Regions from separate parts of the Homo sapiens genome. Here all the other regions are linked to region 7. Evidence: fine-mapped expression QTL. A gene starts in region 7. Each other region holds a variant in brackets. All regions are shown on one strand. Distances are between the middles of the regions. Region 1 overlaps GSAP (gamma-secretase activating protein). Region 2 overlaps GSAP (gamma-secretase activating protein). Region 3 overlaps GSAP (gamma-secretase activating protein). Region 4 overlaps GSAP (gamma-secretase activating protein). Region 5 overlaps GSAP (gamma-secretase activating protein). Region 6 overlaps CCDC146 (coiled-coil domain containing 146). Region 7 holds the start of GSAP (gamma-secretase activating protein).

The links. PIP is the estimated chance that this variant, and not a neighbour inherited with it, causes the effect. A credible set is the group of variants that fine-mapping cannot tell apart.
Region 1: its variant is the best candidate, but not a certain one, in a credible set for the expression of GSAP in whole blood (TOPMed, PIP 0.90).
Region 2: its variant is the best candidate, but not a certain one, in a credible set for the expression of GSAP in whole blood (INTERVAL, PIP 0.51).
Region 3: its variant is the best candidate, but not a certain one, in a credible set for the expression of GSAP in NK cells (Gilchrist 2021, PIP 0.64).
Region 4: its variant is the best candidate, but not a certain one, in a credible set for the expression of GSAP in caudate (GTEx, PIP 0.69).
Region 5: its variant is the best candidate, but not a certain one, in a credible set for the expression of GSAP in whole blood (INTERVAL, PIP 0.83).
Region 6: its variant is the best candidate, but not a certain one, in a credible set for the expression of GSAP in thyroid (GTEx, PIP 0.66).

Annotation. Positions count from the first base shown.
Region 1 is chr7:77,349,470-77,353,536 of GRCh38, reverse strand. It overlaps GSAP (gamma-secretase activating protein), which reads left to right. Exons shown (of 31, transcript NM_017439.4): 18 at 511-593. Among named protein-coding and RNA genes, the nearest start is that of GSAP, 65 kb to the left of the region's middle. The variant C/T (reference allele first, on the strand shown) is at 1,558.
Region 2 is chr7:77,340,481-77,344,547 of GRCh38, reverse strand. All of the region lies in intron 19 of GSAP (gamma-secretase activating protein), which reads left to right. Among named protein-coding and RNA genes, the nearest start is that of GSAP, 74 kb to the left of the region's middle. The variant A/G (reference allele first, on the strand shown) is at 2,299.
Region 3 is chr7:77,375,403-77,379,469 of GRCh38, reverse strand. GSAP (gamma-secretase activating protein) reads left to right here. Exons shown (of 31, transcript NM_017439.4): 9 at 2,080-2,184; 10 at 2,563-2,622. Among named protein-coding and RNA genes, the nearest start is that of GSAP, 39 kb to the left of the region's middle. The variant TTG/G (reference allele first, on the strand shown) is at 2,068.
Region 4 is chr7:77,325,028-77,329,094 of GRCh38, reverse strand. It overlaps GSAP (gamma-secretase activating protein), which reads left to right. Exons shown (of 31, transcript NM_017439.4): 22 at 458-489; 23 at 2,822-2,883. Among named protein-coding and RNA genes, the nearest start is that of CCDC146-AS1, 78 kb to the right of the region's middle. The variant C/T (reference allele first, on the strand shown) is at 1,773.
Region 5 is chr7:77,318,511-77,322,577 of GRCh38, reverse strand. GSAP (gamma-secretase activating protein) reads left to right here. Exons shown (of 31, transcript NM_017439.4): 25 at 1,175-1,245; 26 at 1,759-1,853. Among named protein-coding and RNA genes, the nearest start is that of CCDC146-AS1, 72 kb to the right of the region's middle. The variant T/C (reference allele first, on the strand shown) is at 2,362.
Region 6 is chr7:77,281,952-77,286,018 of GRCh38, reverse strand. CCDC146 (coiled-coil domain containing 146) reads right to left here. Exons shown (of 19, transcript NM_020879.3): 15 at 3,234-3,462. Among named protein-coding and RNA genes, the nearest start is that of CCDC146-AS1, 35 kb to the right of the region's middle. The variant T/A (reference allele first, on the strand shown) is at 1,861.
Region 7 is chr7:77,414,667-77,418,733 of GRCh38, reverse strand. It overlaps GSAP (gamma-secretase activating protein), which reads left to right and starts at 2,385. Exons shown (of 31, transcript NM_017439.4): 1 at 2,385-2,521. The coding sequence starts at 2,413. LOC101927243 (a long non-coding RNA gene) reads right to left here and starts at 3,536. Exons shown (of 5, transcript NR_110073.1): 1 at 3,386-3,536. RefSeq lists silencers at 2,090-2,439, 2,660-2,869, 2,930-3,219.

The sequences.
Region 1 (4,067 bases), 65 kb after region 7:
CTTGACCTTTTTGCTTGAGGGAAAGCAGTAAATTGATAGTGAATGCCTCAACCTGTCCAAATGCTACTTTGGAGCACATTAAAAAAAAAAAACAAAACTCTATCGGAGTCAGCAGCTAATTAAATTTCATTCTCTTGTGGTTTTCTAAGAAACTATGGCTGTACAGAGATTGATGAGATACAAGATAGGATCTTGATTCTATAACCTTATTAGTGATTTTTTTTTCCAGTAAGATGTAACTTTCTTAGCCCAGTTTTGTGTTGGCTGGTTTCGTATGAAATGATATAATGTCATTTGGGTAGATATGGTACTAAGTTATTCTTCTCATTGTAAAAAGCAGAACCTGAACATTTTAGTCAGTAGATAAAATCATGATGGTTACCGTTTTGAGGATGAGGGATAAGACAATGAAAACTTTGTTGGTTTGCGTGTTTTGGTTGCATTACAATGCTGTCATCATCTTATTAAACCACATCTTTTTTCCCCCTGTTTCAAAAAAAATCTACTCAGCTTCTTCATACTGGAGTGTATATTCAGAGACAAGTAACATGGACAAACTATTGCCACATTCCTCAGTGCTCACTTGGAATACAGTAAGTTAACACTGTGTATGCTGTATGCAAATAAAATCAATTCACAGTTGTGGGTCAGTTGTTGGACACCTCTCTTATAGCCATCAAGGTCGTGATTTCACTACTGTTTTGACTGATAAAGAACTCAGTTGAATTTTTTTTGGCAGAAAAGTAATAGCAAATCCCTGCTATTGGCCAAAAGTATTTGTATAAAAACAGTAAAACCAAAGGAGCAGGTACACAGGGTATTTATTATTCTTCCTATTACCAGGCAGAACTAAACCTCTATCATGGTATTTTTATTTTCTAAGTGACTAGAGTGGATTAAAATATGTACTGAGTTTTTATAAGTGAGGAATGGGTGGATTGCTGCTATCATACTTGGTAGATAAGGACCTTCACGACCCCTTTTTCCAGCCCCATTAAAAAGTCTGTAATAACTCTAGAGCTTCAGGATCAGTAAAAGTCAGCAATCTTAGGCACATTCACCCCAAATGACTTTTTCTCCCTGTCGGTTCTGACTCCCTCCTTTTAAATTAGGATGTGCTGAGCTAAAACACTGCTCATTTTCTCTTGAATATGGTACAGTAGACAGAGCTTTGCTGGCCCAGCAAGTGAAAACCGTACATAGGCTGTGCCTGAAAAAGTTCTGCCTCATGTTTCTTATTTAGATATTAGAACTACATGCTTGCTTTTGAGGCAGAAGTTTATATCAAAAAGGTACTTAGAAAAATAAATTGAATTTAAATAACACAGTCATAGGAAAATATGTACTAGAGTAAATGGTGACACTTTATGTTTAGACCCTGTCTAAATATAGTCCTTAAAAAAGATGTATCAAGTGTGTTTGATTAATTTCTAAATTTTTGGTATGCACAGTGGCAGTGCTTTCCTAAAGGCCTTTTCTTTGTCTTTTACTGTCGTGGTTATTAGACTTTTATGCCCCACCTTAGAATTTAAGGGAAAGAAAGGCCTGAACTTGTTC[C/T]CTCTCTAGGCACCCACGTTTTTCTTTTGGAACACATGTGAATAGACATGCAGACCCTGTGGTCACATGGCAGGAAGTCTGCAGGTTACACCACCCCAGAGTCAGGAAATGCACATCTCCGCTCCCTCCCTTACCAACCCCCTGCTGTTATGTCCTGTGTTCAAAGTGTCCAGGAGGCAGCTGGGACCACTGGTTCCCAGGGTTGTGTTAAAAGACTGAGCCACATGTTAATTGGATGTGGTGTGAGAATATCACCCTGAGGGTAACGCTTCCCTTTTGCACTTCTCAAGATTGTGCAGGGTGGAGCAGCTATTGTGGACACGCACAGGGTGACATCAGGAAGTCCAAGAAGAGCGATATAAAGAAACCTGTGGTTATAACCTCCCTGTACTGAACTAATCTTGGGGTTTGCCATGTTGCTTTAAACTTCTTGTGGTTGGACTAGGTTACCTTAAAGGTCTCTTCTAATCTTGAAAATCTATCAGTCTATGCTTATCATTAGCTGTGATGCAAATCATTTATTTTTCTCTTATCTGCAAATGTTCTTAATGCTACAACCTTAATAAAAAGTTTCCACAGGCGAAAACATGGATTTCACATTTTTGTAGGAGACAACTGACTTGGATTTTTTAAGATAATAGAAAATGTGATGCCCTTACACATAGATAATCCTGAATTATGTTTTGCAAACAACTATACCTCTTTTAAAATGCTATTTATAACCAAAACTGTAATGAAATTTTAATTTTTTTTGAGGTATCCTCTGTAGTGATAAATGAAGCACACAATAGATTCTTATCACGGCTTTCAACTGTCACATTGAAGAACTTAGTTGTTTGCATGTTCTGAAAACTTATTTCTCTGTCCCCATGATACCCTTTTTTACAGGAATATTCTATATCAGTAAAATCTCGGTCATTTAAATTATAGACAAATATCAATTTTTATTTCTACATTACATCTCCTAAAATATTTTCTTATATACTTATCTACTTTTTTTTAAGGAAATGAAAGCTGATTTGACCAGATGAGAGGCTAATTACATAATTAACATACAGATACACTTTTCAAAATAATAGTGAATAAAAGGCAATCTTGAAAGTTTATCCTTTTATTAAATTTCTGTTTTAACACTCACTAGTTAGCAGAATGCTATCATTTGCCCTTCTTGAAATGAATTGTTCACCTTTCAGATTTGCCATGATGATAGCACTGCAGAAACTCTTTTTTTTCTTTGGAGACGGAGTCTTGCTCTGTCGTCCAGTCTGGAGTGCAATGGTGCAGTCTCAGCTCACTGCAACCTCCATCTCCCAGGTTCAAGTGATTGTCCTGCCTCAGCCTCCTGAGTAGCTGGAAATACAGGCGCCTGCCACCATGGCTGGCTAATTTTTTTTTTTTTTTTTTTTTAGTAGAGCGGGGTTTCACCATGTTGGCCAGGTCGGTCTCAAACTCTTGATCTAAAGTGATCTGCCAGCCTTGGCCTCCCAAAGTTCTGGGATTACAGGCGCGAGCCACTGCACCTGGCTGCTGCAGAAACTTTTTTTTTTTTTTTAATTATTATACTTTAAGTTTTAGGGTACATGTGCACAATGTGCAGGTTAGTTACATATGTATACATGTGCCATGCTGGTGTGCTGCACCCATTAACTCGTCATTTAGCATTAGGTATATCTCCTAATGCTATCCCTCCCCCCTCCCCCCACCCCACAACAGTCCCCAGAGTGTGATGTTCCCCTTCCTGTGTCCGTGTGTTCTCATTGTTCAGTTCCCATCTATGAGTGAGAACATGCAGTGTTTGGTTTTTTGTCCTTGCGATAGTTTACTGAGAATGATGATTTCCAATTTCATCCATGTCCCTACAAAGGACATGAACTCATCATTTTTTATGGCTGCATAGTATTCCATGGTGTTGTATATGTGCCACATTTTCTTAATCCAGTCTATCATTGTTGGACATTTGGGTTGGTTCCAAGTCTTTGCTATTGTGAATAATGCCGCAATAAACATACGTGTGCATGTGTCTTTATAGCAGCATGATTTATAGTCCTTTGGGTATGGGGGGCTCCTACCTCTGAAATTACAGAGGACAATGAGGTACAGAAAAATTACCCAGTCAAGTCATGCAAGAATCCTGTTAGTCTTGATTCCTTCTAGTGAGGTAGGGGCCAACTATAATACATTTAAGTGAAAGAAGAGAGAGGAAGGAGTATTGATAATGAAACATTTCCCCTTTATCGTTACATTTGGTGCAAACATAATTTGCCTCATTCGTTCTTTAATAGAAATGTATAAAAATACCCTATTTGCTCTCTATTTCTTTGTAATAGTCTTTTCCTTTACTTTAGAGACCCTGTCACCTATTATAATTGTGACTTTAAAGAATGTGTCCTTTCCTGAGGCAAGAGATAGGCTATATTCACTGTTATTTATGCCCTCCAAGGTTTATTTAAAGTAGAGGTTAGAAGCTGGAAGCTGCCCTCAGCTTCTGTCTGTGCAGAAAACACTCCCTG
Region 2 (4,067 bases), 74 kb after region 7:
AGTATGACTAGACAGAAGATAGTACGGATGACAAGTTTTTGGGGTGCAGTCCAAGTTGGGCTGGTGTCTGGAATGAGCCTGGAGCCTAACAAAAAGGAGCGTCCATACAGAAGCTCAAATGGGCTGTACCCTGTAGCATCCCGAGGACAGGCCTGAATTCTGAGAAGGGCAAGTGGTAAAAGTATTGTCCAGTCCTTTTTAAGTTGGAGGCTGAACTTGGCGAGGTGTGTTTTTATAAGACCATTAGTCCATTTTACCTTTCCTGAAGATTGAGGATGGTAAGGGGCCTGAAGGTTCCACTGAATACCAAGAGCCTGAGAAACTGCTTGGGTGATTTGACTAGTAAAGGCCTGTGTGTTATTGGACTGTATAGAGGTGGGAAGGCCAAACCGAGGAATTATATCTGACAGAAGGGAAGAAATGACCACGGTGGCCTTCGCAGACCCTGTGGGAAAGTCCTCTACCCATCCAGTGAAAGTGTCTACCCAGACCAAGAGGTGTTTTAGTTTCCTGACTCCGGGCATGTGAGTAAAATTAATTTGCCAGTCCTGGGCAGGGGCAAATCCTCAAGCTTGATGTGTAGGGAAGGGAGGGGGCCTAAACAATCCCTGAAGAGTAGTAGAATAGCAGATGGAACACTGAGAAGTGATTTCCTTGAGGATAGATTTCCACGGTGGAAAGGAAACGAGAGGTTCTAAGAGATGGGCTAGCGGCTTATAACCTATATGGAAGAGGTTATGAAATGATGACAGAATAGAATGGGCCTGTGAGGCTGGAAGGAGATAATTTTCCTTGGTCTAAGAACCATTTGTCTTGTGTGGGAAGAGATTGATAGGTAGAAGTTAGTCAGTGGGGGAGTAGGTGGAAGTGACCGATGAGAAGGAGAAAAACTGGCAGTGAGGGACAGAAATTGGAATGCTAGCTGCTTCTTTAGCTACCTTATCAGCATAAGCGTTGCCTTGAGCGATGGGATCTGACACCTTTTGATGGCCTTTGCAGTGAATGACTCCAGCTTCCTTTGGAAGTAAAGTGGCCTTGAGAAGAGTTTTTATTAAAGAGGCATTAATGATGGAGGACCCTTGCATAGTGAGGAAACCTCTTTTTGCCTATTATATAACAGCATGGAGGTGCAGGATATGGAAGGCATATTTAGAGTCAGTATAAATATTGATGCGTAGTCCTTTTGCAAGATTGAGGGCTTGAGTTAAGGCAATGAGTTCGGCTTGCTGAGAGGTAGTGGAGGGGGGCAGAAAGTATATGCGTCAGGTGTGAGGAAGAAAATAGATTTTGGAAGTTATGAGAACTGTAGAGAGTGAGTTGAGCATAGTTTGTGATTTTGAGGGCCTCTAAAAGTATTAAAGCGCGGCAGCTGCCACACACAGACATGAAGGCTAGGCTAAAACAGTAAGATCAAGTTGTTTGGACAGAAAGGCTGCAGAACACGGTCCCGTCTCTTGTGTGAGAACTCCAACCATACAGCCCTGCACTTTGGCTGTGTGTAATGAAAAGGGAGTGATAAGTTAGGGAGAGCTAGTGTGGGAGCTGTTTTTTAAGGAATGGAAAGGAGAGTGGGGAAAGGATTTAGGATCTATGGGGTCAACTAGGTTTATCTAGAATAGAATAATGGGTTGTGGAGGGAGGTATTGAGGATAGGAGAGTATATAGGTTTGGCACTGTGGGGTGGATAGGCAAAACAATTTGGTTGATAAGTCGCAGATCCTGAGCTAACCTGTAAGGCTTGTCTGGTTTTTGGACAGGTAAAATAGGGGAATTGTAAGGAGAGTTTACAGGCTTTAAAAGGCCATGCTGTAATAGGCAAGTGATAACAGGCTTTAATCCTTTTAAAGTGTGCTGTGGGATGGAATATTGGCATTGAGCAGTGTAAGGGTGATTAGGTTTTAATGGGATGGTAAGGGGTGCATGATTGGTCGCCAAGGGGGGAGTAGAGATGTCCTATACTTGTGGATTAAGGTGGGGAGATACAAGGGGAGATGCGAAGGAGGCTTTGAACTAGGGAAAAGGGCAGAATGAGAGTGTGGCTGTAACCTAGGAATAGTCAGGCAAGCAGATAATTTAGTTAAAATGTCTTGACCTAATAAGGGAACTGGGCAGGTGGGGATAACTAAAAAGGAGTGCATAAAAGAATGTTGTCCAAGTTGGCACCAGAGTTGGGGGAGTTTTAAGGGGTTTTGAAGCCTGGCCTTCAATACCCACAACAGTTATGGAGGCAAGGGAAACAGGCCCTTGAAAAGAAGGTAATGTGGAGTGGGTATCCTCTGTATTGATTAAGAAGGGGGC[A/G]GACTTACCTTCCACTGTAAGAGTTGCCAAAAGCATCTGTGATGGTCCAGGAGGCTTCTGAGGTGATGGTGCAGCGTCAGTCTTCAGCCGCTAAGCCAAGAAGATCTGGGAAGGAGTCAGTCAGAGAGCCTTGGGCCAGAGTTCCAGGGGCTCTGGGAGTGGCTGCTGGGCGAGTTGGACAGTCTGATTTCCAGTGGGGTCCCGCATAGATGGGACACGGCTTAGGAGGTATCCCAGGCTGTGGGCATTCCTTGGCCCAGTGGCCAGATTTCCAGCACTGAAGTAAGATCCTGGGGGAGGAGGTCCTGAAGGAATGCTTGACCACTGTGGCTTAGGCATTTTGAAGTTCTTGTGTGCTGGAGATGTGGCTGGGGTTTCTCTCACGGTGGAGGCAAGGAATTGCAACTCAGAAATATGTTGCTACTTGGCTGCCTCTACTCTATTATTGTACATCTTGAAGGTGAGGTTAGTTAAGTCCTGTTATGGGGTTTGAGGGCCGGAATCTAATTTTTGGAGCTTTATTTAATGTCGGGAGTGGATTGGGTAATAAAATGCATACTGAGAATAAGACGGCCTTCTGGCCCTTCTGGGTCTAGGGTGGTAAAGCATCTAAGGGTTGTTGCCAAATGGGCCATGAACTGGGTTGAGTTTTATATTTGATGAAAAAGAGCCTAAACACTAACTGATTTGGGAGAGGTCGGATAAAGAAAAAGGAGCATTAACCTTGACTGTGCCTTTAGCTCCAGCCACCTCTTTAAGAGGAAATTGTTGGGCAGGTCGGGAAGGGCTAGTCGTGGAATGAAACTGTAAGCCAGACCAGGTGTGAGGAGGCGAGGTGATAAAAGGATTATAGGGTGGGATAGTGGAGGCTGAAGAAGAATTGGGACCTGGCTTGGCCTGGTGAGGAGCAGCCTTGGGGAGGAGGGGAGAGGTCAGATGGGTCTGTAGAAAAGGAGGATTCAAGGACTCAGAGCTTGGGGTGGAGACTGAAGGAACAGACAGGAGAGAAAGAAGACAGATTTGGGATGAGTCACATTGGGAGCAGAGACTAGGGAGGGACCAATGTGTAGAAGAATGCCTGGAAGTCAGGCACCTCAGACCCATTTGCCCATTTTTCAACAAAAATCATCCGGGTCTTGTAAAATGGAGAAATCAAAAGTGCTGTTTTCTGGCTATTTAGAACCATTATCAAGTTTGTATTGGGGCCAAGCGGTGTTACACAAGAAAATAAGATGCTTAGGTTTTAGGTCAGGTGAGAGGTGAAGAGGTTTTAAGTTTTTGAGAAGACAGGCTAAGGGAGCAGAAGGGGGAATGGAGGGTGGAAGGTTGCCCATAGTGAAGGAGGCAAGCCCAGAGAAAAGAGAGGGTAGAGACACGGAGAAGGGGTGGGGGTAGTGAGCAGCCCTGGGCTGCAATGTGGGTGAGCAGCCAAAGCAGGCATCCCCGCAATTGACTTGCCACCAAGGGAATGTGGGTGAATGACCAAGGCAGGCATCCCCACGGTGATCAGACACCAATGGAGTGTGGGTGAATAATCAGGCAGGCGTCCCCGCAGCGATTAAACACCAAGGGAAGACTATCTTCCCGAGTCTGTGACTGGCGCCGGAGTTTTGGGTCCACGGATAAAATGTGTCTTCTTTGTCTCTACTAGAGAGGAAAAATAACTGGAATTGGAAGGACAGGGAGATTGAAGGGTAGCAAGAGAGGCTGGAAAAGAGAGTGAAAAGACTGCCTACCCGATTTGAAATTGGTGAGATGTTCCTTGGGCT
Region 3 (4,067 bases), 39 kb after region 7:
GTGTTCTTCCAAGAAGTACTTCTGCCTTCATTCTTAAAGGCTTAGATGACAGCTTCACACAGCATAAGTATAATACCATCTCTATCATGCAGGGATGTTGCAAAGAATATGCAATTCCACATATTCTTTGCAACATCCCTGCATGATAGAGATGGTATTAGGCTTATCCCTATTTTTACAGAGAAGACAGCAACCAAGACTCACAGAGGTGAGGTGACTCGATCTAGAGAGGAACAAAACTGAGATTTGAACCTGGGTATGCCACAATCTGACATTCATTTTCTTGTTAGTACATACCTTTACCTGGAACGGTTCTCAGATCTACTCCAACTCAACAAATTTCAGAAAAATGATTGTCCAAGGTTTAGAGACAGACAGGTCCTCTTGGATCTTTTCTCTGGCATCACTTTCCTCTTGTCTAAATATAATGGACAGGGTAAGCGGAAATAGTGGTTTACAACTCTTTATGCCACATGGCCCCCCTCAAGTTGCAAGTTACCATCGGTGGAGAAATCCCTATTAGGATTAGGGAGGGTTTAGGCATGAATATGGACCATTCTGGTGTTTCCTTTTTTCCTCATTTCTTCTACCCTAACCTGTCCTTATTCTTTACTCATCTACCTCAATGTAGATTACTTTTGCTTAATAAGCATTTTGAGGAAAGTTAATTCTTAACTGCTTCTGTTAAATTATTTCGAGGTCAGCTGATGCACTGAAAGGGCACTGGGAGGATTCCAGGACGTGGATTCCAGACCTTGCAGAACTAACTATGCAGCCTAATCTAACTGCTCAGGACCTCAGTTTTCTTACCTGTTAAGGGGTTGAATTGCATGGTTTCTAGAATCTCCTGATTTTAATGTTCCATAGTTCTGACTTTGTTACTTAGTAAACAAATATTTCAAATTTACTCTTGCACACCTTATTTCATTTTCTGCCTTTGTTTTTTTTTGTTGTTTTTTGTTTTGTTTTTTATTTTTATTTTTTTTGAGATGGACTCTTGCTCTGTCACCCAGGCTGGAGTGCAGTGGTGGGATCTTGGCTCACTGTAACCTCCGCCTGTTGGATTCAAGCGATTCTCCTGCCTCAGCCTCCTGATTAGCTGGGATTACAGGCATGCACCACCATGCCTGGCTAATTTTTGTATTTTTTTAGTAGAGATGGGGTTTCACCATGTTAGCCAGGCTGGTCTTGAACTCCTGACCTCAGGTAATCCACCTACCTCGGCCTCCCAAAGTGCTGGGATTACAGGCATGAGCCACTGTGCCCAGCCCATTTTCCGCCTTCCAAACAAACATTCCTTGAGCACTGTTACATGCTAGAAACAGTCAATGCATTGGTAATAGAAACGTGTTGTAGAAGAGTGCGTACTCACTGGGGGAGGCTTATAGCATTAATTAAAATGTAATTGTCAAAGCAGCATGCCAATGCACCATTGGAAAACAGGTGAGGATTATACTACATCTTGGGGATGTGAGGGAAGGCTTTGTGTAGAACACAATGTGTAAGTCAGGTCTTGAAGAATGAGTAGTTAAGTATTGCTGAGAGATGGGCAATATCATCATACTCATCATGGAAGACATAAAGGTGAGAGGCATGCCCAAAGCTGCATGGTTGGTTTATGGCCAAATTGGGGTCATTGCCTACTACTTTCCACTGTCAGGCCTGAGTTTTTCCTTGGCATCACAGCCTCTGTCTTTGGTAGTGGAGGGCTCTTGTCTGCAGAGGCTTGACTTAAGAGAGTTAGGTACAGAACAGTAAGTTCCGAATCTTCTATTAATGCAGCTATTGATTTGTGGGAGGTGTGGTGTTGTCTTCAACAGCCTCAGCCTGTCTGCTAAACTAAGAGCAGGAATAAAATCATATATTATACGTGGGAAGAAGAGGAGGCAATGAAATTATGTCTTAAAACATTTCTGGAAAGACTGTGTATACTAGGGGTGGGGAGCTTCTAACAGTGAACTGTGGAAATATTTACATGTATCATAAAGATAGACATGGAAAATAATTATGAATTCCAGATATGTTCTCCTTTAAAAGTTATTCATACTTTTTTTTTTTTTTTTTTTT[TTG/G]CATTTTTAGGTGATTAAAAATTCTGGCCATCTCCCAAGAGACAGAATAGCTGAGGATTTCGTTTGGGCTCAGTGGGATATGTCAGAACAGAGATTATATTACATTGACCTGAAGGTAAAAAAACTAGTTCACGGGCACTCCTTTTTTTTTTTTTTTTTTTTTACAAAAATATTAATTTTTTTAGAGACAGGGTCTTGCTCTCTTGCTGAGGCTGGAGTGCAGTGGTGTGATCATAGCTCACTGCAGCCTTGAACTCCTGGGCTCAAGTGATGCACCTGCCTCAGGCTCCTAAAACATGGATTACAGGCATGAGCCATAGTGCTTGGCCCCAGCACTCTTTTTTATAAGAACAATTTGATTTTGACATTATTATTACTGCAGTTCACTAATCATTACATTTTCATTGATGGAAATAGTGAAGTTTTGCTTCTTGACTGCTTCCTTTTCTTTTTTTCCTGGTTTTTTAATATGCCATTCTGTTTTCTCTTTTAGAAATCAAGGAGTATCTTAAAATGTATCCAGTTTTATGCTGATGAGAGCTATAACTTAATGGTAAGTCCAGAAAATGATCACACTACAGGAAAGTTTATGATACATTACTCTCTTTTTTTTTTTTTTTTTTTTGAGATGGAGTCTCACTCTGTCGCACACGCTGGGTGCAGTGGCGCGATCTCGGCTCACTGCAAGCTCTGCCTCCTGGGTTCACGCCATTCTCCTGCCTCAGCCTCCTGAGTAGCTAGGACTACAGGCACCCGCCACCACGACCAGATAATTTTTTTTGTATTTTTTGTAGAGACAGGGCTTCACTGTATTAGCCAGGATGGTCTTGATCTCCTTACCTCGTGATCCACCTGCCTCGGCCTCCCAAAGGGCTGGGATTACAGGCATGAGCCACTGCGCCCAGCCTATAGATTACTCTCTTTTAAGAGAATTGTTATCATAAGCAGCGCTTTAGCATTCCTGATGGTTGTGTTAGTTACTCGTATGAGCAAGTAAAATTAGTTCTTGCCACCTCCAGGTTTCCACTCTATAACAAATCCAGTTAATGTAGGTCATTAGAAGAACACACACCAGAAATGTCCAGTAACTAAATGCTTCACATCAAAGAAAAATGTGTAAGTGGGGATTAGTAGAAGGTGTCAGGTTGGTGCAAAAGTAATTGCAGTTTCTAATCATTTAAAAGTAATGGCAAGAACTGCAGTTACTTTTGCACCAACCTAATAATTGATGGGGTCTGTAAGAGATAGCTTTAAGGGGTTATAAGTTATTTGACCCAAAAGGACTTGTGAGGATGGTGGATTTGAGAATAAAGAGACAAGTCAATGAGAGGGTATAGTTTAACCAAAATCTAGCGTTACCCCTGAAAAAGCTATTTGGAATGTTAGCATTGTGTTCTATCAGTGGAAAAAAACTTCTAAAAATAGGAAAATTTCAATTTAAGAACTTGAATTTTTTAAAAAAAGATTAAAAAAAATTAGAATTGTGGTGAAGTGTTCTTAATATCTTTGTGATGAACAATATGGTGGTTGTTTTTTTGTTTGTTTTTTTTTTTTTTTAAGACGGAGTCTCACTCTGTTGCCCTGGCTGGAGTGCAGTGGCATGATCTCTCTTCACTGCAACCTCTGCCTCCTGGATTCAAGCAATTCTCCTGCCTCAGCCTCCCTAGTAGCTGGGATTACAGGCACCTGTCACCATGACCAGCTAATTTTTATATTTTAGTAGAGATGGGATTTCACCATGTTGGCCAGACTGTTCTTGAACTTCTGGCCTCAAGCAATCCACCTGCCTTGGCCTCCCAAAGTTCTGGAATTATAGGCGTGAGCCACCATGCCGGCCTATTCTTCTTGAGTAGGACTAATGTTGCTATCTAATACAGATTGTTATGCCATTGCAAGAATTGCACTTACCCCTCCTGCCCTCTGCTCTCCTTCTAAAGACACCCAGGCCTTCCTTCCTTCCTTACTCAGTCATCTATGTCTTGTAAAAGATGGTTGCTT
Region 4 (4,067 bases), 90 kb after region 7:
ACAATGGATAATTGGTAAAGAAATTTCCTATTAGCATTTTAGGAGAGAAAGGCAAATAGTAGGTTGATTTTTTTTTTTTTTAAAGTGTCAGTGGGCTAGTGAGCTTGCTTTTATTTTGAAAGCCTATTTTCTGGATATATGAGTCATCTCAGAGTACTAAAAGTATAGGCCCCATTCCAACCTCTGTTCTATTTTCTGTCCCCATTATTTTCAATAACTGAGAGCTACAGTTGTTCTAAATTATTGCCGTTGTTGGCACTAAAGGGTTTTGAGATTTTTTAATTGCCTAATGTGGCTTTCACTACATTGATCAAAGTTTTTGAGGTTTTCAGCAGCTTGAGAATAGTTTCTACAGTGGTTTTTATGAATTTTTAAAGGAGGATATCTTTGTATGATGTGGCTTTAAATTTTTTAAAAGCAATGCTGTCTGTGAATAACATGGCTAATTTCTTCGTAGGGTGATTTCTAACCTAGAAGCAAGAAATTTGGGTAAGAAAAGATCTGTAATAAAGCCTTCTGGGTTCCAGTCAGTGTTTTGTTTGTAGCACTGTTCTTCCTACCACTGTGGGTTGGCAAGAGAATCACTTCCAGTAGTGTGGTGCAGGCAGCACCTTTTAATATCTTGCTGTTAGAGTGGCCGCACGGCTCTTCCCATGTCTGTCTAGGCACCAGGACCTCCGGGGACAGCTGCTGAATGTGCTTTTGCGATGGGAGTCCCTGGGTGATGGCCTTGCGGTTCTCCTTATTTCCTGTCATACAGAGCTGCCCTCTGGCTGTGCCCACAGGATGCATTTTGGCATTTCCCTTGGCTTGGTGCTGCTTGCTTTCTAGCTGTCTGATCCTACCGGGTCTTGCCTTGTTTGTGCCTCTCATTTGGGTTAAAAATTGGGCACACAGGTCCTAGAGGCATAAAGATGAGGAGCTTCCAGGTAAGCAGTGTGGTTCTGGGGGAAAGAGCACAGGCTTGAGAGCTAGACAGAGCTGGACTTATATTCCAGCATGGCCTCTTGTGTGAACCATGTGCTCCTGGGCAAGTCACTTACCCATTTGTGCACTGTCCTTAGGGGAGTGAGGAGAAAATGAGACTAAATGGGGTAATGCAGATAGCACCTAACATAGTGCTTAGCACATGAGGGTACCTGAGGTGGCTGCTTTATTCCTTAGTGTGTAAAGAAGAAATGTTAACATGTGGCTTCTAAACCAAATGACAGGTATTATATAATCCATAGGTGCGGGGAGTGAGAGGATAGGTTAGGAGCGGGGATGGCTGGAGGAGGGAGGGAGGTTGGAAGAGGCTCCCCAGAGGGCTGACAGGTGAGTTAAGTCTTGATAAACAAAGGGGACTTGGCCAAGTGAAACCAGGGGAGGGGAATGCTGAGCATATTCAGGCACAGGCTTATTTGTAGTTGCCAGAAGAACACTTTCGTGCCTCATGAAGGTCAGCCTTCATTAAATAAGCTTTTGTTTTTATATCCCACTCCTGTTTTATGGGCTTGGATGTTGGGTGATTCTAATGGAAACTATTTTATACAGTGCATTGCTGCACCTCCTCCAGCTGTGCACACAGCACAGTGAACTGTGACAGTGCACTTGTCATCCAGCTTAGGCTGACAGAGCCTGGGCTCACTGACCAGCCCAGGAGGAACCAGCCTCTGCCTTACCAGGCCATCAATCCCTGAAGCCAGGGGATCTGCCCTGCCAGACACGGGCATGTGTGTGTGTGTTTCAGGCTTATCATCCTTGCATTGCTGGGGGTTTCGCAACACGGGGAA[C/T]GTTGCTGGTCTGGCTGAGGTTTCTGTCGTGCCACCCCTCCTGCCCTGCTTATGGAGCTACTGTATGTGTCAGGGCCGTTTGCATCCTGTTACTAGTCAGTCTATCTTAATGCACTTTAGGAAACTCTTCCCTTTCCTTGCACGTGCTTTGCGTATACTAGTTCCCCATAAAGAATGTCACTGCCTGAAACAGAACATTCTGTGAAATGCAGGGCTGTTGGATTCACATGTTAAATTGTTTCATCTCAATCACGAGGGTTGTGTAGGATCCAGGGAAGATTTATCCCGGGGGGTCAAGAGATATCGATGCCCTCCCAGAAGGAGTTGCCAGCCCACTGAGCAGGGTGGTTCTGCCCTCTTGCCTGGCACTGGATCTCAAGTATTTAAGAAGAAAAGAATGGAATACAAAGAAGTTAGAAGCGCTTTGGGGCAGATTTTCCAGCAAGACTGGGTTTGTCTGCCCCTAGGGCCACTACACTGTAGTGTGCATTGCAAATCATGGTGGAGAAGGTACCATTTGATTTAACATATCACTTTTCCACCTTTACCTAACTACCTTTGTAGTCTGATAACTTGTGCCAGTTAGTATTATTTGCTGCAGTAATTGACTGGCCCCCTCAGCTCAGTAACTCCCAAGGCTACTGAACTACAGGGTTCAGAAAGTAGAAGGGAGCCATGCAGTCCTTCCACCGAGCGCTGTTCCCTCAATTTATGACCCCAGAAGGGTTAAGAGAAGGCCCAAGTCCCTCTGTTTCCAGTGGAGCAGAGGTTCTTAGCAGTGAGTTTTAGTGTTGAACAAAAATCAAAGCTAGAGCCTACTGGGGTTGAGGAATGTGTTGGTTTCTTTCTTTCTCGGTCATTCCCTGTTTCACACAGCTCTGATAAGTTCACCTTGTAGGACTAGGTCACACTTAGGTGATGAAAAATTTTCATCCTGTGTTATGTTTTCTCAATGACTCAGAGAAGGGAAACCCAGGCTGATTCTTCTTCCTTCTAACCCATCTCCTGAAAACTGCTCAGAGCCTAACTATTGCTCTGTTTCATTTCAGGGCCAAGATTAACACCCCTCCTGCAGGAGGAAGACAGCCACCAGCGGCTGCTCATGGGGCTGGTAAGTGGTACGTGGGTTCTTTAGGGGCTGGCAAACAAGGAACCCTAAGACAAGGGGAAAGGATTACAGTGGGCTTCTCATTCTGATCTTATTCTTTATTCTTTGCACAAGTATGTTTTGCCAGCATTATGGACCTTGTGTGCCCAGTGGTAAGCAACCCATATGATTTCTGCCCTCTTGGAATGTGTAGTCAAAGGGGGAAGACACACATGCATCACACCAATACATATGTAATTTACAAACCATGATAAAAGGAGTGTATAGTGTTGAGAGTGCTTTAAAAAAGGAAAGAGCTGCATCTTTGTGGCATTTGTATTTGGGGTTTCAAATACAACAGAACAGGCCGGGCACAGTGGCTCATGCCTGTAATCCCAGCACTTTGGGAGGCCAAGGTGGGCGAATCACCTGAAGTCAGGAGTTCGAGACCAGCCTGGCCAACATGGTGAAACCCTGTCTCTACTAAAAATGCAAAAATTAGCTGGGCATGATGGTGCACACCTGTAATCTCAGCTACTCAGGAGGCTGAGGCAGGAGAATCGCTTGAACCCAGGAAGTGGAGGTTGCAGTGAACCAAGATTGCGCCACTGCCCTCCATCCTGGGCGACAGAGGGAGACTCCGTCTCAGAAAACAACACAAAACAACAACATAAAAACAACAGAACAAAGTACTTTTTCTCAAGAAGTCATAATACTAGGATGACCAAAAAAATATGAATCAAAATAAATTTTCAATTGAAAAGCAGAATTTGTAAATAAATCCAAAACCTTTAAAAAGCTGATTAAAGAGACATCTGGAAAGCCTAATAAGATATTTTTTAATACCATGTGGACTTAAGAATGGGATAATCTATTTATTAGTTTAGGTTTAATTTTCAAGTTTTCTGCCTTTATTGCAGTCATTAGTGTTGTTTCTACATAATATATTTGAATTTCTATGGTAAGGTTTGAGTTTCATAGTTTTTAATATATTAGGAGAGGTTAGTTTAGATATGCCAACAATAGTAAAAGAAAAATCTCACATATACAAGAAGGAAATAATTATAGTACTTTTATAAAATTAAATATTGCACAGCCATTAAAATAGTATGGCAAACATGGCTGGGCACTGTTGCTCACACCTGTTATCCCAGCACTTTGGGAGGCCGAGGTGGGTGGATCACCTGAGGTCAGGAGTTCGAGACCAG
Region 5 (4,067 bases), 96 kb after region 7:
AACACACAGTGATTTAACACATCCACCTATCACCTTTATTTCTGTTGACTCGAAATCTTACTTCCCAAAGTGCTAAGAAGGGTTTCCATTCAAGCGTCATTTTTCTCCATTGTTAATAACATAAGTTTTAACACTAGTTTGTGTTAACAGCCTGTAGAACCAATAGGCCCAGAAACGATACATATGAAGTCTCAGAAAACTCAAGGTCCCTGACATTGACTCAGCAGTCACTGATTGAGGCCACATCTCCCTGCCCCTGCCCAGCAGCCACTAGTCATGCCTTCTGCTCCCCTCTAAGGAGAGTGGCTGGCATCCTTTCTAAAACATATCCAAGGAAGTTGCTGCAGAACCTGATTATATTGGTTACATGTTAACTTACTTAATTTCAGCCAAAGAGAAACTGAGGATCTGTATCAAGGATAGCGTTTGCCTGTGAGTCTATGGAGATCCTTCTGCTTTGCCCCGTTTTTAGCCCACACAATGTGTGGATTCGTGGCTGATAACAACTCCATAGGGACTGCTCTTCTGCTGGCAAACTCGTTGCAGCGTTAGAATGGGTTTCTGGATAAAGCTCTAAGACAAAGAAGGCTACCTACTTTGGTTGATTAGTTCCAGTCAGTGTGCTAACCAATTCTTACAAAAACCCTATGAAATATTTCCCCTCACTTTACAGATGAGGACACTGCAATTTGGAGAGGGTGGGTAACTTGTGTAGGGTAACACAACTAGTAATGTATAGAATCTGGACTTGATACCAGTCTTACTTCACAGCTCATGATCATGACCTCCATTCTGTGTCTCTTTTCTTCTGACTGTCCACTGTTGGCTCTTGCGTTGTGACAGGCCTGGAGCAAACCCTGTAGCACTTTACCTTCACTGATGGATGGGGGTCTGTAAGTGTGAGTGGTGGGGCCAGTTAGCTGGGCTGGGGAGGCTGAGCTGGGGCACTGCCCACACAAACAGAGGATGCTTTGTTAGTTTCTGGTGCACATTTTCAGTCTTTCTATTTTGGGTTCAGTGCTTCAGAATTGACCTCAGAAAGGCTAGTTGTGTGTCTGGATGCAGCCTGAATGCCAGCTGCCCTGAAATGCTTATCTGAGTTGTGGAGGCCTAGCTGTGGGGCCCTTGAGGGAAGGAATGGAGCAATGGTTAATGGACTGTCTTCACCCTCCAGCTGGATCTCATTTGCCACATCGTAGAAACCAATTGGAGGAAACATAATCTTCATTCCTGGGTTCTCCACTTGTACGCAAGTATTTCTCACTTTTATCATGGTGTACAAAGAGTGGAAACAACTCTGTTGTAGCAAAACCCTTTTGAAATGCACTAGTTCAAATCAGTTCTCACCAGCTTCAACACCATCTAGCTTAATTCTATACTCAGCATTTAAAGTTATGCCCCCCTGCATATGTACCCTTTAATGTATAATAAAAGCTAAAATTAAAACAAAGTTATGCCCGTTACTTTACCCATCCTCTTTCCCTGGCACATGGTTGGTGACAGGGGAGGGACAAATGAGCCCAGTACTGCCAAGAAGGGGAATTTCACTTAATACAATGTGTAACATATGTTCCTACTCTGATTAAATTCTAGGCATTAGGCCGATGGTCACATTCATATTTATGGGGCTTTCTACAAGGCATAGCATTTCATGATTAGCATGAACCCTTGTGTAGTACTCAAAGCCACTGCTTAGGACAAATGGAGCATCACAGATGAGCTCCTTGGCTGACATGCTGCTTTGTTTTTTTTACCCAGCAATAGTCGTGGCAGTGCTGCTGAATTTGCAGTTTTTCACATCATGACCAGGATTCTGGAAGCTACAAACAGTTTGTTTTTACCTCTGCCTCCTGGTAAGTGTTGGCTCTTTTGTCCTTTGGTATAATAAATTTATTTCTTCTTCATATGGGCCCTTGCCTTTGGTACATTATAAGTTTGATGATGAGACTTGTGTATGAGAAATTGTGTATCTGGTGTTACTGTGAGTGATGGGCCCTTAGGTTGGTCTCTGCTGACCAGAGCTCCTCTGACTACTAAACTATGATGTAGCTTATTACTAACTTTAGGGAACCTAGGCTTACCCCATGCAGCTTTCTAGGATAATTTGAACTAGTAGAACTAATTCAGGGAGCTCTGTCTCTGATGTCTCCAGGCCTAGTTTATCTGATTGAGATGTCTGAAGATTAACACTGGGAAGTCGGTCTGGCTTGGTGCCAAGAATTGAACTGATTCTTATACGCTTGGAGGCTAAAAAATTCCCTTGGAATTTTTAAATAGGATCAAGTCAGGCCACAAAACATCCTGGGGAGATGTATATGCAGTCATTCATTTAATTGGTCATTTGTTCATTTAGTCAACAAA[T/C]ATTTGTTGAGCAACTATGACATGACCGGTAACGTGCTAGAAATTAGAGCAATTACAAAGATTAGTAAGAGTCTAGTTGGGAAGATGTACATAGAAATCAGTATCCATTATGAGAAATAAGCCCCTGTTAGCTATAAACTGTCTTGTGCTCATTACATATCAGTTCATTTTTTTATTGTGTAAGAACACTTGAGACCTACCCTCTTAACAAATTTTTAAATGCACAATACAGTATTGTTAAATATAGGTACAATGTTGGATAGCAGGTCTTTAGAACTTACTCATCTTTCATAGCTGAAACTTTATACCCATTGAACAGCAATTACTTATCCCCTACTCCCCGGTTCCTGGCAAGCACTGTTCTACCTTCTGTGTCTATGAGTTTGACTACTTTAGATACTGCATGTAAGTGGAATCATGCAGTATCTGTCCTGTGACTGGCTTGTTTCACTTAGTGTAATGACCTGAAGTTTCATCCATGTTGTCACATGGAGCAGGATTTCATTTTTTAAGGCTGAGTAATACTCCATTGTAAATTCTACACTTTCTTCATCTGTCAGTAGACATTTAGGTTGTTTCCCTATCTTGGCTATTGTGAATATGTTGTGATAAACATGGGAGTATATACATATCTCTTCAAGATCCTGATTTCAGTTCTTACAGATATTTATCCAGAAATGAGATTACTGGATCATATATTGATTCTTTTTTTTAAATTTTTTGAGGAACCTCCATACTGTTCGCCACAGTGGCTGTACCACTTTACATTCCCACCAACAGTGTATAAGGATTCCAATTTCTCCACATTCTTGATAACACTTAAATTGTGGTTTTTTGATAGTAGCCAACCTGAGAGATGTGAGGTGATACCTCATTGTGGTTTTGATGTGCATTTCCCTGATGATTAGTGATGTCGAGCATATTTTCACATAAGTGTTGGCCATTTGTCTGCAATCTTTGGAGAAATGTCTATTCAAGTCCCTTGCCCATTTTTTAATCTGGTTGTTTTCTTGCTATTGAGGTTTGAGTTCCTTATATGTTTTAGATATTAACTCTTTGTTAGATATATGGTTTGCAAACACTTTTTGTCATCCTGTAGGTTTTGCCTTTACTCTTTGGATCGTTTCCTTTTATACATATATATTTTTATTATTATACTTTAAGTTTTAGGGTACATGTGCACAACACACAGGTTTGTTACATATGTATACATGTGCCATGTTGGTATGCTGCATCCATTAACTCATCATTTACATTAGGTACATCTCCTAATGCTATCCCTTCCCCCTCCCCCCACCCCACAACAGGCCCAGGATCGTTTCCTTTGCTGTGCAGAAGCTTTTTTGTTGGGTGTAGTCCCTCTTACATATTTTTGTTTTCATTGTTTGTGCTTTGGATGTCATATTCAAGGAATCATTGCCAAGACCAATGTCAAGAAGCTTTCCCTCTATGTTTCTTTTAGGGGTTTTTCAGTTTCAGGTCTTATGTTTAACTTTCTAATGCATTTTGAGTTGAATTTTGTTTATGGTAAAGATAAGGGTCCCATTTCATTCTTTTGCCTATGGACAGTTTTTCCAACACCATTTATCAGAGATACACGATCCTTTCCCCATTGTGTGTTCTTGGTGCTTTTGAAGATTAGTTGCCTAAACATGAATGGATTTATTATTGCATATAAAGTTCTAATGAGTGTTAAACTTTATGAT
Region 6 (4,067 bases), 130 kb after region 7:
TTCATTGCAGGTTGTTACAGAGACCAGGGTAACTCACATACAACACACTGGACTTCATTTCAAAACACTTGGCTGGCAATAGGTTTAATGGCTTCCCAAAGAAAGAGAAAAACATTCTTAATTATTGAATCTACCTAATGTACACTCTGTGAGGAACAGCTTGGGCTATTTGTATTTTTTCTGCTAAATCCCTAATATAGTGTCATATGTATCAACTCTATTTGTTGAATCAATGAGATTTTGGTGGTGAATGAAGAAACATGGCTACTCCTAAATAGGAATGGTAGCCACACTTAGTTTTTGTTTTATAGGGAGAGAGATACGGAGCATGGTGACAACCAACAAGCATTATTTTCAGTTTTCCTACTGAATACCTGTGTAATCTCAGGTAAATCATTTATCTTCTCTAAACCTTAGTTTCCTCACTTGTCAAATGGGAAGAAAAGGCTCAGTGCCATGGGGTTGATCCATCATATGAGATAATATATTGATGGTATTTTACAACATGTCTAAGACTGATACAGGTAGCATTTTTAAAATTTAATTTATGCTCCTCCTCCCTACAAAAATAATTACAAATGCTGACAAATAATTTAACATTTTTCTTTTTCCTGTATCTACATCCCTTAAATGTCCTTAATATAGAATTGAAGTGTACATACATATGTAATCAAGCATTTGTTGTATTTATTATTAACAATACTTAATGTTCCCTTTTCTTAATTAGGAAACTAAATAAGAAACAAAAATATAGTGCTTGCTTATAAAGGGATGTCTCAATTTTAGTTTTCCCTTGGCATTTGAGGAAAAACTGTTTACTCTGTCTATGTAAAATAGTGTCCTTGTGTCCCAAAATAGTTCATATAACTTCCTAAAATTGAGCTATCATTATAGGAACCAGGAGAACAGACTCATGATAATCCTTGGATTAGATTGTTGGACAATTAAAAACTGTTATGGACGACCGAAAAAAATGCAAACCTTAAGAGAATTCTGAAAATGATGCAAAAAAGGGAGAAGACTTAAAAAAAAAACAAACCCCAAGACACTGTGGCTGTAAAAAATGACAGGATATGACCGGGATCTGACACTGCAGAACAGGGCACAGAAATGGCTTGCCTGAAGCTAGAAATTTCACATCATATCCTTCAAGGGTACACATGATTGATGCTGAGCAGATAATCAGAATTCACTCCGGTAGAGCAGATAACTGATAACACAGTCTGCATGTCTCAGTTCATGTGCAATCAAAATGATCAAAATTCACCATCAGGCAGGGAGTGTAGTGTTATGAAATGCATAATATTTCCTTCTTGGGTAAAAGTGAATTTACATTTCATACTAGATAATAGGTTTTATATAATAAAATGACAATTTTTTTTCTAAGAACAATTTTATCCACTGAATGGAAGTATTGATTTGCAGTGAACACAAAGAATATGCTTATACAATAGAGAGGAAATTATTCTGTTGCAGATTTTATTGAATTTAAAGATCTTTTGTGTTGCTCTGCATCTTGATAGTTTAGGATGGGCAAAGATGGACCTAAATCTTCATTTTGGGAAAAAGCTGGAGAGAGACAAATTCTTCTGTAAAATGGAGTGGGGGCAAGCATGGAGTTCCTGGGGGCAATCTGGGATGAGGAGGCTGTGGAGGGAGAGGGGAGGTGAAAGAGAAGCCAGTGAAATCGAGCTAGGCAAGGGTGTGGTACAAGGTATTAGTGCTCAGGGAAGCGTCTCCAGTGCCCCCAAGAAGAGTATGGATATCTGATATCAAATTGAAGTGCTTTGCATTTCTGTAATGTAACCCCACATACCATTGCCCCACATCTTTAATAAAGTCTGTCCACAGAGGCCTCGC[T/A]TGAATGGTCTTGTGTAGGTGTAGCCTGAGGAAGGGGTGAGTTCCGTGCCTTTGCAGACATGGCACAGAAGTGGCACAGGCACTGTGTGTGCAGGCTGATGGGTGATCCCTCAAATGAACCTTGTTGGAAGCAGGAGTCAGAGCCACAGGAAGCCTGGGGAGGCCTGTGGGAGTTTAGGGGGACTTTCTAGCCAATCGATCTCAATCTGACTACACTTACTGAAGAAATGAGTGGAAGAACTCAAGGCTAAATTAAAAAAACAAACAAACTTGGAATCAGAACATTGGCATATTTGTGCAAACTGAAAGAGGCTATTATCTATACAGCATATACACATTCAAATGGCATAAAATATGAAAGCAGATCTATCATCTAGTCCCATGAAATCCTATGAATCCCCTTCACATGATTAAAAAAAAGGGGGATCTAAAACTGTCTAGGGCATGAGCTAATGAAAAACATTTACTTGTATACCTAGAAAATAAATGACAAGATGTCTCCCAGATTTTTGATAATTTTAATAGCAATTATATCTTGGGAGTAGAATTTTATTTTCTTCTTTATAATTTTTATACTTTTACAAAATTTCATTCACCAAATGTCTTAACTTTTTATCAGGAAAAAAAATCCAAACGCAAACCTGACATTTAAAAAAAAATATTATAGGTTAGAATTTGTTCCTGCTACATTGGTCAATGGGAACAAGTTTAGGCTACACAGTTTTTATTTTAATTTTTAAAAAAATTCTATGAAGAATAAACCCCAAGTAACACATGTGAAGAAAGTAACTTTATATTCACATTTTATTTATTTTGTTATTTCATGTTTTAGTTTTTTGGATCTATTCCACTTTAAAAAAGGCCATGTCAAAGGCCAGGTTACTAAGCTATCATAGAACTACAGTGGTTAATAAAGAATCAAGTTATATGTAACTGACAACTACTAATAAGCAACAATCTCCAGACAATCTCTTGCTCTGGGGGCCAGAGTATCAAAAGTAAGAGTGCTGGCTCATCCTCAAGATCTGTCCAGCAAGCAGCAACGACATAATTATGCTGAGGGTAGTGAGAGTCTAGATCACTAAATTTTGAGCTATGAGGAAGCTGAGCTAGAGATAAGTCCTGGGAGTCTTCAAATTCCAAGAAAAGCAGAAAATGCTTCATAAGAAAAAAAGACAATGTGTAGCCTGGATGCCTGAAGCACAGATTCCATCCTAGAGTAGCATTCAAATGTATTTTTAAACAAGATGGATGGATTCTTATAGGTCCCAGAAATAGTATGGCTTGGTTTACATGCAAGAACTCACCCACAAACTAATAAAGGCAGAAAAAAATAAATGGTCTGAGGAAGTGTCCCGTGATCACTCACCCACCTGAATTTGGAGCACAGCTAGGTCGGCATCCAGGGACCTCTTGGCTGGCAGTAATTTCTGGGTCACACAAATTTGTCTTTGCTTCTCAGCAATCTTCATTTTCAGGAATTGGATCTTTTCTTCCAGTAGATGTATTTCAATTTCTCCATTTAGTTTCATCTTCTCTTGGATATTTATTTTTTCATAAAAAATGCATATTTCTTCTTCCCGCTCTATCAGCTGAACGCCACTATGGTCAAATTCAGAGGCAGAGGCTAAGTGGGCATTGAGACCACCGTTTTACTAGTCATTGTGGTTCCCTCTGGCTTTGGATGCAAGATATACACAACATAGCATACTTCCAGAGGATCACAGATAGTCACCAATGGCTTTCTAGTTAAATTACATCCACACTTTGGAATTCTCTAGGGATAGGAGGGTTACTGAGCCTCTCAACTTTGAGGCTGACCATGTGGTTGGCTAGCCACAATGTCTCTGAAAGTCCCAAAGGTTTTCCTGGGGTGGGAAAGAATGTCATTCCCAATGCACAAACAAAGTGATCCCATAGTCTGATTTTCTGCAGATCCTTTTCTCGGGTCAGACTTGCCAACCAAGGCCTGGCCAGAAGCACACAGGCAGGGGGCCAGGGAATGTAGTTCTGGTGTGAGTCTGCTCTATATTAAGTTGCTAGGCCCATTAGTTTCTTCTCAAGTTGAATATTTCTGGTTGTGATTTCCCCATAAACAGGCAAAAATCTATCCTTTGTAATCATGCCAGGAGAAAGACCCCTCCTTGAATGGAGAATATGGGGAGGAAACAAAGTAAGAATGTTCTAACCCCAGCAGCTCTGGTCTG
Region 7 (4,067 bases):
AACAATACAAAATATAGAATGTGTTCTAATAAGTGTTCAAACACAAACCTATTATTATAGTGCTCTTTGGCCTGTGCCCTAAATTTTGAAATGATCACTCCTTAAAATTGAAACCCTTGGTTGCAAGTAAAATAAAAGTCTGACTGAATATCATTTAAACAATAGGAAATTCAACATCTCTAATATCAGAAAGGGCAGAGGATGGCTCCAAAAATAATTTACCAAGGTTTCTCTTCTCTGCAGTTCTCTGGACTCTCCTGACTCCAATGACTCCATTTTCAGTGTGCTAGATGGCTGAAATTCCAGCAATCATATCTAGATCCCGAAATAGTTAAAGACTGAAAGGGACCATCTTTTCCCATGTCTCTTGTTTTAAGAATAGAGAAATCTGTCATAGCAGAGGTTTCCTTACAACTCAGTGGCCGGAATCGGGTATCATACTCTGACAGAGATCTCTAATTGCTTCTGAATATCTACTTTCCCCACCTTCTTCAGTAATACCGTCCTGATTTTTATCTGGGCACAGCAATGGCCAGGTATATTTCCTTGCCTCCCTTGAAAGCTACATTTGGCCATGTGACTAAATTCTGGTGAGTGAAACATACGTAGAAATGTTGTGTAGAACTTCCGGGAAGTATCCTTAAAAGAGAGGTAGCATCCTCTTTTTATTCCTCTTCTTCCATTCTGATTTCTGGAATGCAGACGTGAAGGCTGAAGCTTCTGCAGCCCTCTTTGATCATGAGGACAAGGGTACACTCAGGATCAGGTGGAGCAAAGAACTGGAAGGAGCCTGGGTCCCTGATAAATTCAGGAACCTGCCCTAAGAGCTTTATTCTGCCTACGTCCAGCTAGGTGACAGAATAAAACTTGTGTGTTTAATTTACTGTTAATCTGAGTTCTTATTAACTTCTGGAGAATCTAATCCTAACTGATACACATGCCTTCATATAGCACCCTCATGATTTTGGCCACATCTTTCTATCATTATCTTATTGTTTCTCACCTTCTTTACATTGGCTTTTTCACTTAATTTGAAGAGAATTTTTTATATCATCACTGCTTGACTATAAAATCAGTCCTGCCTGGCAAAAATAGAAGTTAACTGCAAAAATAAAAACAATGGAAATGTACTGACTTTAAAAAATTGGCCAACAGTGTTTCTGTATGACAAAGGCAACAAGCTTATTTGATATGAAATAGTTGCATTAGCTCCTTGGGGGCTCCAGTGGCCTTCCTTTTATTCACTGATAATATTAGCAGCTTCATTAGGCATTTATCTTAAATTTGCATGCACTTCCCGGGTGGGAGGACTTTCCTCTGTATATGGTGGTGAGTAATGGAGTTCTACCTGAAATCATCCATTACCTCAGTTGGAGAAACATGTCTCTAGGAGGGAAAAAAATTCAAGACTTTCTTTTACATTTGGTTGGAGTAGTTTTCAAACTTAGTAAGCCTAAGAATCACCCGAGGCTCTGGGTAAAATGCACGTTTCTGGTCTTGTCCAGGTGTAGAGATCAGGAGTCTGCATTGTAAAATAGTGCCCCAGATGACGTCAATACAAGTAGTTTTCAGACCTTAATTTCGGAAGCATGTGAAAAAGCATTCTTTATTACTGTATTCACTCATTCTTCAGTAATTGTCGAGCACCTTCCAGAGTGCTCTGTTAGACCCTGGTGGGAGGCAGAGGGTTTGCGTGGAGACTTAAGATTCAGTTTTCATGTCTCAAGGCATCAAATGAGATGTACTAGAGTTAAAAGGCAAAAAGGACGCTGTTTGTATCAAGCGCATTAACCCCTTTTAGCGTTTCTCTTACAATGGGATCACCTTCGTCATACGCTCCCAGTTGCTACTCATTACCTTAATAACACTAATAAAGCACCACCACCTCGAAGCTGGGGCGAATAGGCCCAAGAGACGGCCTACTTCTGTGGTGACCCTGAACTGCTCCAGAGGACCCAGCTCTCTCAAGCCAAGTGGTTTCCACACTTTGCTGCACAGTGGAGGCACTTGTAGAATAAAGAAAATAGGCCGACCCTCCAGGTTTGGAAGCCACTGGGCTAGCGGCCTCGCCAAGGCCCTGAAGCGCCCACGTCTTTGCGCCCTCTATCCTCAGCCCCGAAGGTGCGCGCGGAGGCCTCCCGCCCCGGCGGGCCTGGTCCTGGCGCCTGGTCCACCCCGCCCCACCGCTACCCGCCGTGCCCGGCTCCGGCTCCGGCTCAGGTGCGGGCCGCCGGCCGGGAGGAGCTGGTGCCGGAGCTTCTCAGGCCAGGGCGCTGCAGAACCGAAAGCAGCAGGGGGCGGGGGAGAGGAAAGAGGGGGCGGGAGCGGGGACGCGAGGGCGAGGCGGCCACGCGGGGCCGGGAATGCCCGCGGTGCGGGGCCCCAGAGCCGCCCGGTGGTCGTGTCCGGGCGATGGCTCTTCGCCTGGTCGCCGACTTCGACCTCGGGAAGGACGTGCTCCCGTGGTTGCGGGCGCAGCGGGCAGTGTCGGAGGCCAGCGGGGCCGGAAGCGGCGGCGCAGGTGCGGGAGGCGCGCTGCGGAGAGGGGTGGGGGCGGGGAGTGGGAGTCCCTCATACCCCCCGGACTCCGACCCGGTGGGGAGCAACCCGGGGCGTCGCCGCCCTGAGAAGGCTGGTGCGAGGGCGTCGCTCCCCTCCTCAGAGGGCTGTTTTGGCTTTGCCACCCACACCCAGCCACGGCGGAAGGTCTGGGGGCAGAGCCCGGGCCAGGTCGCCGTGGGGCCTGAGGCGCCTGGCTCGCTGCCGGCCCGCGGAAATTCGCCCTTGGCAGAGGGGCCGGGCCGCTGGCGGTTCCCTCAGCATCACCTCACGGCGAGGGCAGAGGGTCGTGCTCAGCTCAGCGGCCGCATCCCACCTCCCGGGGGGTTCATCGGCAGCGCAGGGGCTTTGCCAAGACAGGAGTGCTCCTGGAAGCTTCACGTTTTGAGAAAGAATCCGTGACCACCAAGCAAACCACCCTATACCTAACGGTGGAACAGTTTGTCCCCACATTTGCGAGACGTGTTTATGTGTCTGTTGAACCGTGTCCGTGGCTCAGGGGACATGGGCCTCGGCGGTGAGGCGCAAGAGGGCAGGGGCCGCCTCCAGGCTGCGCGCGGCGGGGCGAGAGCCCCCAGCCGCCCCCGAGCTCCGCACCTGTGCAGGCTGGGGCTGCGCGCGAGATGCTCGGCTCCCGGCCCTGCCACTCCGGGCTTTTTGATGATTTGGTAAGGGAGTGAAAGTGACTTTTGAGCCTTCCCAGCACTGATCTGTTTTAAAGAAGGGGAACTTTGTGATTTCTTACAAAGTTTTAAAAGTCTTCTATAAATATTGGAGCTTCAGAGCTTAAATGCAGCTTCAAAGCAATGATGCCTGTAGGTCTCACCTTGTGTGTAGGGCGCTGTCCACTTCAGTGAATTTGGAAGTGGGTATTAAATGACCCACATCTACAACTCCTTTCCCTTAAACGCTGGTGAAAGTTTTCTTGATGTGAGTTATATATCAAGTTGCTATCTTGTATCTTCACACTCTCCTATGACTATAGCGAAATTATTTGTAGGTTTCCTTGGCTTGGAATATTATTAGCTCCAAATAAGGAGTTATATGTTTGTGTAGCGTATGCATTGAGTTTGCATTAGTGTCATGCTTAGTAAGGCTTTACTTTTTTTCGAGGTGGAGAGGGTGGTCAAGGAAGAATTTTATACAAAAATTAGCTGGGCGTGGTGACACGCTCCTGTAATCCCAGCTACTCGGGAGGCTGAGGCAGGAGAATCGCTTGAACCTGGGAGGCAGAGGTTGCAGTGAGCCGAGATCTCGCCACTGCACTCCAGCCTGGGCAACAGAGTAAGTCTCCGTCTCAAAAAAAAAAAAAAAAAAAAAAAAAAAAAAAGTCGCCCACATGTCTGAAAAGTTTTTGAAGGCTTAACTTTTTGAAATACAACAGGCAGCTCTGTCTTCTACTACCAAGTACTCCTTTTTCTGGACTCCCACTTTATTTTGCTAAATGGCAGGTGTCTGCAAATGAGAAGTTAGATGAGTGTGAAATGCCACAGTCTTATGTTTCCGTA